3 separate regions of the Homo sapiens genome follow, and regions 1 and 3 are each linked to region 2. The links come from fine-mapping of genetic effects on plasma protein levels. A gene starts in region 2. Each other region holds a variant in brackets. All regions are shown on one strand. Distances are from middle to middle. Region 1 overlaps CNTN3 (contactin 3). Region 2 holds the start of CNTN3 (contactin 3). Region 3 overlaps CNTN3 (contactin 3).

What was found. A credible set is the group of variants that fine-mapping cannot tell apart. PIP is the chance, under the fine-mapping model, that this variant and not a neighbour inherited with it causes the effect. The UK Biobank Pharma Proteomics Project read protein levels with antibody pairs (Olink). The fine-mapping took linkage between variants from a reference panel, not from the people measured, so its PIPs are less certain.
Region 1: its variant is the best candidate, but not a certain one, in a credible set for the plasma level of the CNTN3 protein (UK Biobank, PIP 0.71).
Region 3: its variant is the best candidate, but not a certain one, in a credible set for the plasma level of the CNTN3 protein (UK Biobank, PIP 0.54).

The regions. Positions count from the first base shown.
Region 1 is chr3:74,508,898-74,511,662 of GRCh38, reverse strand. The region is part of intron 2 of CNTN3 (contactin 3); the gene reads left to right. Among named protein-coding and RNA genes, the nearest start is that of CNTN3, 100 kb to the left of the region's middle. The variant G/A (reference allele first, on the strand shown) is at 1,213.
Region 2 is chr3:74,613,629-74,616,393 of GRCh38, reverse strand. CNTN3 (contactin 3) reads left to right here and starts at 1,735. Exons shown (of 23, transcript NM_020872.3): 1 at 1,735-2,003. It overlaps LOC105377166 (a long non-coding RNA gene), which reads right to left and starts at 2,591. Exons shown (of 3, transcript XR_007096257.1): 1 at 2,503-2,591; 2 at 1-121.
Region 3 is chr3:74,556,295-74,559,059 of GRCh38, reverse strand. The region is part of intron 1 of CNTN3 (contactin 3); the gene reads left to right. Among named protein-coding and RNA genes, the nearest start is that of CNTN3, 57 kb to the left of the region's middle. The variant T/C (reference allele first, on the strand shown) is at 1,191.

The DNA.
Region 1 (2,765 bases), 100 kb after region 2:
GGGTCTCACTTCATCACCCAAGCTGAAGTGTAGTGGTAAGATCATAGTTCACTATAACCTTGAACACCTGGGCCCAGCAATCCCCTGGCTTCAGCCCTCCCAAGTAGCTGGGACTACAGGCACACCACCACGCCAGGCTAATTTATTTATTTATTTATCTTACTTCTTGTAGAGATGTGTTGAATTGAATTTCTGATAAAGTGGTATTATACTTAGATGTACCTTCAAGACTTTATGCCTTGAAGGATAAAGGGCAAAAATATTCCAGGAGGAAGAATGACATAAATCAATCCAAGATATGTTATTTGATAAATCAACTTATTTTGCAAGTAATTATATGTGAATTTCTTGCTGACATCCATGGATGTCTTACTCCCTGTAGGGCTGTAGTCTATGAATATGGAAATTGTGCTCTGTCAATATGGAACTGCTGAATTGAAGATTGCTAGACCTTTGATTTTTTGTTTGTAAGAAGGTGAAATTTGACTTTAGGCCTAAATCTCTGGATTTTTTTTTAAATGAAGCCATTCAATTTAAAGGAAGTGTTTTCTCCCCTCCTGAAATTCTTTGATCCAAATTTAAGAAGTGTTCAAGATAGATTTGGCCCAATAGCCACCATCGTGCAGCTCTGCAAACCTAAATTCCCAGTATCTATGATAGGTCATATACGTATCATATGATTGTAGAATTTGTGATTTGCAAAAACTTGAAAAAAACAAACTAGCCCAGGTTCTATCTGAAAAGCAGACCCAAAGCTCAAACTGAGATTAAGGGACCGAGATGTGGAATGTGTCCAGGCAGCCAGCAGGTGACTGATTTGAATCCTAACTTTGGAAGATTTAGATTAAAGTAAGAATTGCTTGTTGATTACTTGTTAACTAAATTCATAGCTTGCATAAATGATTTCTCATAGATTTGGGGATATTTTGCCAAAAGATACATTCCGTAGGAATAGTAAGGCCTTTGCAAATGCTGACCCTTCCTGAAGGTAACTTTAACCACAGTAAACATTCTTAGAGATTTGAGTAAGTGAAACACCAAGCAGAACTCAGCATTTTTGTTTTGTTTTGTTTTAATGTCTTAGGCAGCTGTTACTTTCAAACAAGTCATTAAAATGCAGAAAAGGGACTTTAGTTCAGCACTCTGAGGTTTGCAAAAGATTACTGTTAGGGTGCTATTGCTGTTGAAAGTGCTATTTTTGTATGTACTTTC[G/A]TGAAGCTAGTCCTGTCTTGTACCTGTACTGATGGTACTCAGAAGGGTGTGCACGGGGTGTAGATGATCAAGAATCTGCAAACTGCCTAACAGAAATAACTGCCTCTGTAAGGACACAGTGAAGATGTTTCATGAGAGTCATAGACACATTCACTGAATTCGCTTCCGTTATATGTTCATATTTTTATATAATATATTGTGTTATAGTTGGATGCATAAATTACAGTTGGAGTTAAGTGAATCTGATTAGGGTGGTCTCAGGAAAGTCTGAAGTCTTTCTGTGATCAGCTGTAACATTTTGTAAATTAAAACCATCTGCAATGATGCTTAAGTAAACACACCTACAGACCCAGGGAGATTCCCAGACAATTGCTAATTTACTAAGTTTTCATATATATATATATGAAAACTTATATATATGTATATATATGTATATAAAATAGGTATGCTAAGAGGTTAGAAGAAGTGTGTGTTAAATATGGTCACTATCTTCTGAAAGTATAAAGCCCGGGGATGAGGGTGATAAGAGTGAAAAACAAGTACATGTAATATATTATAGGATAATGATGTTGTGATGAGTAAAATACACAAACATTGTTCTAGGAATTCAGAATGAGGAACGATTACTACAAGGGAGATAATGAGGGAGGATGAATGAAAGAATTGAGAGCAGAGTTTCCTCAGACTTCCTTACACAATTTGGTGGCTTCTCATACATACTGCCAAATGCTTCTTCCAAAACGGTGGTACCAAAAAAGTATAGAGAGATTCCGGTTTAACTCATCCTCTCCAGCCCTGTGGGTTACTTATTTATAATCTGTGCCATTATTAAGGAAAGCAATAGGAATTAAAAGGAAGCCGGGCACAGTGGCTCATGCCTGTAACCCAGCACTTTGGGAAGCCAAGGTGGGTGGATCACGAGGTCAGGAGTTTGAGACCAGCCTGGCCAACATGGCGAAACCCCGTCTCTACTAAAAATACAAAAATTAGTTGGGCATGATGGCGTGTGCCCGTAATCCCAGATACTCAGGAGGCTGAGGCAGGAGAATTGCTTGAACTCGGGATGTGGAGGTTGCATCACTGCACTCCAGCCTGGGCAACAGAGCGAGACCCCATGTCAAAAAAAAAAAAAAAAAAGAAAGGAAAGGAGCACCACTTTTTTATTCAGAGTGCTTAATAGTCACTTAGAATTAGGTGATTTAGCAAATGCAAAGTGTGTAATACTGGGCCTAGCATCCCATGTTTATTTTCCCTCCACAGGTTGACATTTTAGAATGTGCATGTGTTTATTAACTAAGAATATATAATGAAGAGGGATTTTGTTCCATACTGTATAGCTCTAAGAAACAATGCTTCTGAAAACAAAATAAAATATGTTTTTGTTTGCCAACATTTTTGGCAATACACAGTATTTCTCTTCTCCCTGAGGCTACAGAGGTAGCAGTTCAGTAGATTTGAGGAGGGCTCTCTTGTCTTTACTGTATCTTGGGCCCAGTGATACTCTTTCAATTTTTAAGATGCTTATACTTTTTCTTACATTGCCAAGGTTGGTT
Region 2 (2,765 bases):
CTGAATTGCAGAGGACCACGCACGTATCTCTTGAGAAAATGATCAAACGTGAGAAAGTGCAGTTAAACCAGGCCTGGTTTGCCCAGGTTGCTTCTCTTGATGAGGTGTTGCTTCATTCCATCTGCAGGAATCACAGGGAGAGGATCAAGGAGAGGAAACAGGGCCATAAACTGTCAAGTCTAATTAAATGTGACTAGATTATTTAATATGAAGGGACAACGTGATACATTTTAAAAACAATGTCAGAGAATTATAAAATGAAAAGTATAAAGTCTCCTCTGCTCCAATTTCAGTCTCACTCACTAGGACTAACAATTGTTAACAGTATCCTTAGACATCCTTTCAGAAATTGTGAATGCATAAATATGGATACATACACACAAAAGGGTGCGTGCGTGTGTGTGTGTGTGTGTGTGTGTGTGTGTGTGTGTAAGTGCTTGTAAGCACAAAAACGGTACAGGTACCAACTTTCCTGTGCCGATCAACAGTACATGTCCCAAGTTCTCCTAACAATACCGTTTATTTATTTTTTTATTTATTTAGAGACAGGGTCTCCCTCAGTCTTTTGGTCTGGAGTGCTGTGGCACAATCATGGCTCACTGCAGCTTCCACCTCCTGAGCTCGAGTGATCCCTCAAGTGCTCCTCCCACCTCAACCTCTCAAGTAGTTGGGACAACAGGTGCGTGCCATGACGCCCACCTAATTTAAACTTTTTGTTTGTTTGTTTTTTGCAGAGACAAAGTCTCCCTATGTTGCCCAGGCTGGTCTCAAACTCCTGGGCTCAAGAGATCCACCTGTCTTGGCTTCTCAAAGTGCTGGGATTACAGGAGTGACCCACCTCCGCCCAGCCTCTAAGGATACCTCTTGGAGGTCATTTATGCCAATACTAGTAGATGCACCTTTCTCTCTGCCGCTGTATGTCTCCACTGTATTTTATCAGCCACTCTCCTAATGAAGGACAGGTAGGTTGTTCCCAACTGTTTTTCGTACAACTAAAGTTGCAGTGTTTGCACGGGTTTGACTGGAAGTAAGTCACCAGCGGTTCAGCGCAAAGGCTCAGGACTGCAACAGGCTTATTCAAGTCCGGGTTCTCCAACCCACCACTGTGTGTATACTTGGGCAAATAAAGGTGGTAAGATCTACTTCACAGGGTCCTTGACAGAATATAGTTGCGATTATTCTCACAACTGACTCATTGAAACTTTAAGCAAACCAATTTCCTCATCACTAAATCCGGGAATAATAATAGATCCAGGTTGCTCTGGGGACTGCATGAACTAATTGATTTAGCGCAGTCCACGACCTGCTACCTAGTGAGCCCTTAATAATTATCCGCTTTAATATTAAAATTGGCAATCTTTGCGCACTTGTGGGAGCGCAGCTGCAGGAGGCTTTTCTAGAAGTGGAATTCCTGCCTTAACCCCGTGTTCCGAGGGCCCTAACTGCGTGGCACGAGGCCACCCGGAGGTGACACGGTGACCGCCGCCCAGCCCGCGCCGCCGCCCAGGGCCCTGCGGAGGCCGGACACACGTGGGTGCACGCGGCCGAGCGCAGGGCCGCGCGGGGTCCGGCCGGCGCAGAGGCGCTGGGGGCGCCGCAGACGCGAGGCTCGGGACCCAGTTGGCTGCTCCGCCGCGCTCCCCGCCCCTCCCTCCCTCCAGTCCGCCCGGTCTCCCCTCCCTCCAGCGTCCGCGTCGGAGCCGGAGCCGGAGCCGGAGTGGCGGAGGCACGGGCAGTGCTCGCTAGGCGCCGGCAGCAGCCACAGCAGCCTGGCGCTTGGCGGCGGCGGCGGTGGCAGCGGCGGGCGGGCTGGCGCCGTGGACTGGGCCGGGAACCGTGCGGACGAGGGTGCTGCGCCTGCGGCGGCGGCGGCTTACGCGGGCGCGCACGGCGGCCCCCCGGGCCCGGACTAACTGCGGCGGCGGCGGTGGCGGCGGCGGCGGCGGCGGCGGCGGCGGCGAGTGGGCCGTCGGGGCGGGCGTCTGGCGAGCTGCAGAGACCAGGTAAGTCCGGGATGCCCGACTCCTGGCGCCGGCCGGGCCACAGGGATGAGCCACCTGCCAGGGCAAACTTTACGCCCTGGCTTCATGGCTCCTCAGCCCCGAAGTTTGTTTGCAGGGAAATGCACCTGACGGGTCGAGAATAAAAGATGCTTCTCTCATCGGACTTGCTCTGGGGAGATTATTTTTCCCCTTCTGGGGCGAGGATTGGTTTCGGGTTGGGAAGGCTGCATCCCCAGCTGGAGCGCTGAAAATTGAGTGGTAGGTCCCTTGGGCTTGCCCTTCGCGCAGTGGATTTGACCAGTTAAAGTTGGGGGAAAAAAGTTGTGACTCCTAGGGATGCTGAGGAACAATTCCAGGTGCATGATGCAGAATGTGGGAATGTGATACCTCTTTGCTGGAACCACCCCCCAGGCCCAGATTCCCAGGTCTGAGAAAGCTAGGGTGGCCGATTCTTTCATTAGCGATCAAGTTTTCTAAGCTGCATTTTCTTTCTACTCACAGATCAGCAGCTTGGGACGGAGTTCCCCGTCGCGTTTATTTGTCAGGTTTACCCTGCTGCGCTGTAGTCCAGGTTTCCTGAGCTCGGACCCTGGTTTCAGCTGTTTCTGTGTTCTCTGAGGAGCCTGCAAAGCTAACCAAGCAGGTAACAGAATAGCAGAAACAGAAAACCAGGAAGTGCCAACCGGGCACCGGGGTCATAGCACCATCAGGAATTTTTTCTGGTCGCGTGAAATGAACGAACAGCTTCTGGGCTCTGCTTGT
Region 3 (2,765 bases), 57 kb after region 2:
TTTCTATGCCTTAGGTTATTTAGTTAGTAAAATGAACTTTGACTGCAGTTACTATTATTATTATTATTATTATTATTGAGACAGGGTCTCACTCTGTCACCCAGGCTGGAGTGCAGTGACACAATCTCAGCTCACTGCAACCTCCACCTCCCAGTTTCAATGATTCTCATGTCTCAGCCTCCAGAACAGCTGGGATTACATGTGTATGCCATCACACCTGTCTAATTTTTTTGTATTTTTAGTAGAGATAGGGTTTTACCACGTTGGAAAGGTTAGTCTCAAACTCCTGGCCTCATGTGATTTGCCTGCCTCGGCCTCCCAAAGTGCTGGGATTACAGGTGTGAACCACTGCACCTGGCCTGCAGTTACTATTATTAATTCCATGTTACAGATGAACAAATTAGGATATAAAATGTCAAGTAATTTACTGAAGGGCAAAGAGATAGTCAATAGTGGATCAAGGACTCAAATTCAGGTTTAATACACCAAAGACTATGCAGACCATCTCTATGCTGTTCTGTTTCCCATTTGATTCTTAAAATTATATATGTCTGTCTTTAAAAGTATTCAGCAAGAAGGCTCTGCATACATCAGTTTATCATTTTAAATATATAGCTTAGGGATATGTAGATAAGACTAACAGTTGTGAGGAGTGTTGCAAAAATTTACTCCTAATAAGTTTCTTAGATTGCATTCTTTGGGAAATGGACTCTGAGACAGAGATCTGCATATACGAAGTTTGTTTGAGAGTGTCCTCAGGATCAACTCCTGTGTGAAAATAAAGGAAGTAGGATTAAGAAGAGGGAGGAAGGTGAACTATGATGCAGTAGTATCAAAGGCTTAGCCCATCCTATGGGGGGTTCTGGACTGCAATGACCCTTCAGAGTTGTCTCATCTTAAGGCAGGGGACTGGGCTTTCATATATCATGCAAAAACCAGTAATTGCATGAAGATTATCCCTAAAGAGGGAGATACAATTTGGGGCAACTCTGGCCGAGGGCAGTTCCTGGAGAGACTAAGCTGAGAGCCATCAGCCACCTGTATTTCTAGAGGCTGGGGTAAAGAATATTTCATTCTGAAGGGGAACTATTACAGTCCACCCCTTGTGTTCCATGCATCCATTTGTTTTGTTTAATAGAGTTTGGAAACAGCTTCTTCAGTGTTCTTGTTGGTTTCTCTACCTGGAAAAA[T/C]TTACCAGGGAGCAGCTAATAGGACAAAATACTCTATCTCTGCAGCTGGCCTCAAGGTGGAAATGGACAGTTACTATTTCTGTCTTTTAATATTCATTCCAAGCTCTCTCTGACTGGCATTTCCTTCTTTTTTTTTTTTTTTCATCTGTTGCTGTTCTGGCATGAGAAGCCTGAAGTGACAGGGTGGAAATTATGGCATAAAACTTAATCGTGTCTGGCTGTGTTCCTGGCGGAAATGTTACCTTTCTAGGAACAAGAATTCTTAAGCCCTTAGAGTTTCAGCAAATAGAAAAAAGAAATTTCCCATATGGATTGCTGAGGCTACTTCTGCTTCTATCCCTTGGTTCCTAAACCTGTATGTCCTACCTGTTGAAGACACAGCACTATATACTAGTCATTGACTCAGGGTGTGTACGATGTCCTGGAGGATGATGCCTCATCCATGCAAGAAGGCCTCTACAAGTGGATGTTTCAATCATATTTTCAAAATGCCATCACAGTGATGGGAAAACTGGATATCCATCTGCCAAAGATGTTGGACCACTACCTCACACTATTTACCAAATTATTTCAAAATGGATTATAGGTAGAACTCCAACAGCTAAAACTAGAAAACTCTTAAAAGAAAATGTAAATATAAATCTTCAGGACCTTGATTTAGGCATGGGTTTCTTAGATATGACATTAAAACCCCAAGTGACAAAAGAAAAAAGAGAAAAATCAGATTTTCATCAAAATTAGGAACTTTTATGCTGCAGAGGACACCAGTTAGGAAGTAAAAAGACAATCCACATAATGGGATGAAATATTTATAAATTATGTATCTGGTAAGGGACTTATATTAGAATACAAAAAAACTCTCACGATGCAACAATAAAAAGACAAACCTGTTGAAAACTGGACAAAGGATTTGAATTGATGTTTCTCCAAGGAAGATATACAAATGGCCAATAAGCACATGAAAACATGGTTGACCTCATTAGCCATTAGGGAAATGCAAATTGAAGCCAAAGTGAAATATATTTCACACCCATTAAGACAACTAAACTTTAAAAAGGACAAATATAACAAATGTTGACAAGGATGAGGAGAAATTGGAACTTTCCTACACTGCAGATGGGATAGTAAGATGGTGGAGTTACATTGGAAAACAGTCTGGCAGTTCCTGAAAATGTTAAATATAGAGGTCCCATATGAAGTAGCATTTGCACTCCTAGATATCTACCCAAGAGAAATGAAAACATACATCCATGCAAAAACTTGTACACAAATGTTCATTGCAGCATTATTCACAATAGCCAAAGAGGAAAAATTCTAAAGTCCATCAACTTATGAATGAATAAGCAAAGTATGGTATATCCATACAGTGGAATATTATTCAGCTACAAAACAAAATTTACTAACATTTCATGAATGTACCTTGAAAATACTATGCTAAGTGAGAGAAGGCATTACAAAAGATCACATATTTTATGATTCCATTTATATGAAATGCCCAGAATAAACAAATCCATAGAAATAAAAAATAAATGAATGGTTTCTGGTGACTGGGAGGAGAAGAGAAGAGGGGAGCCT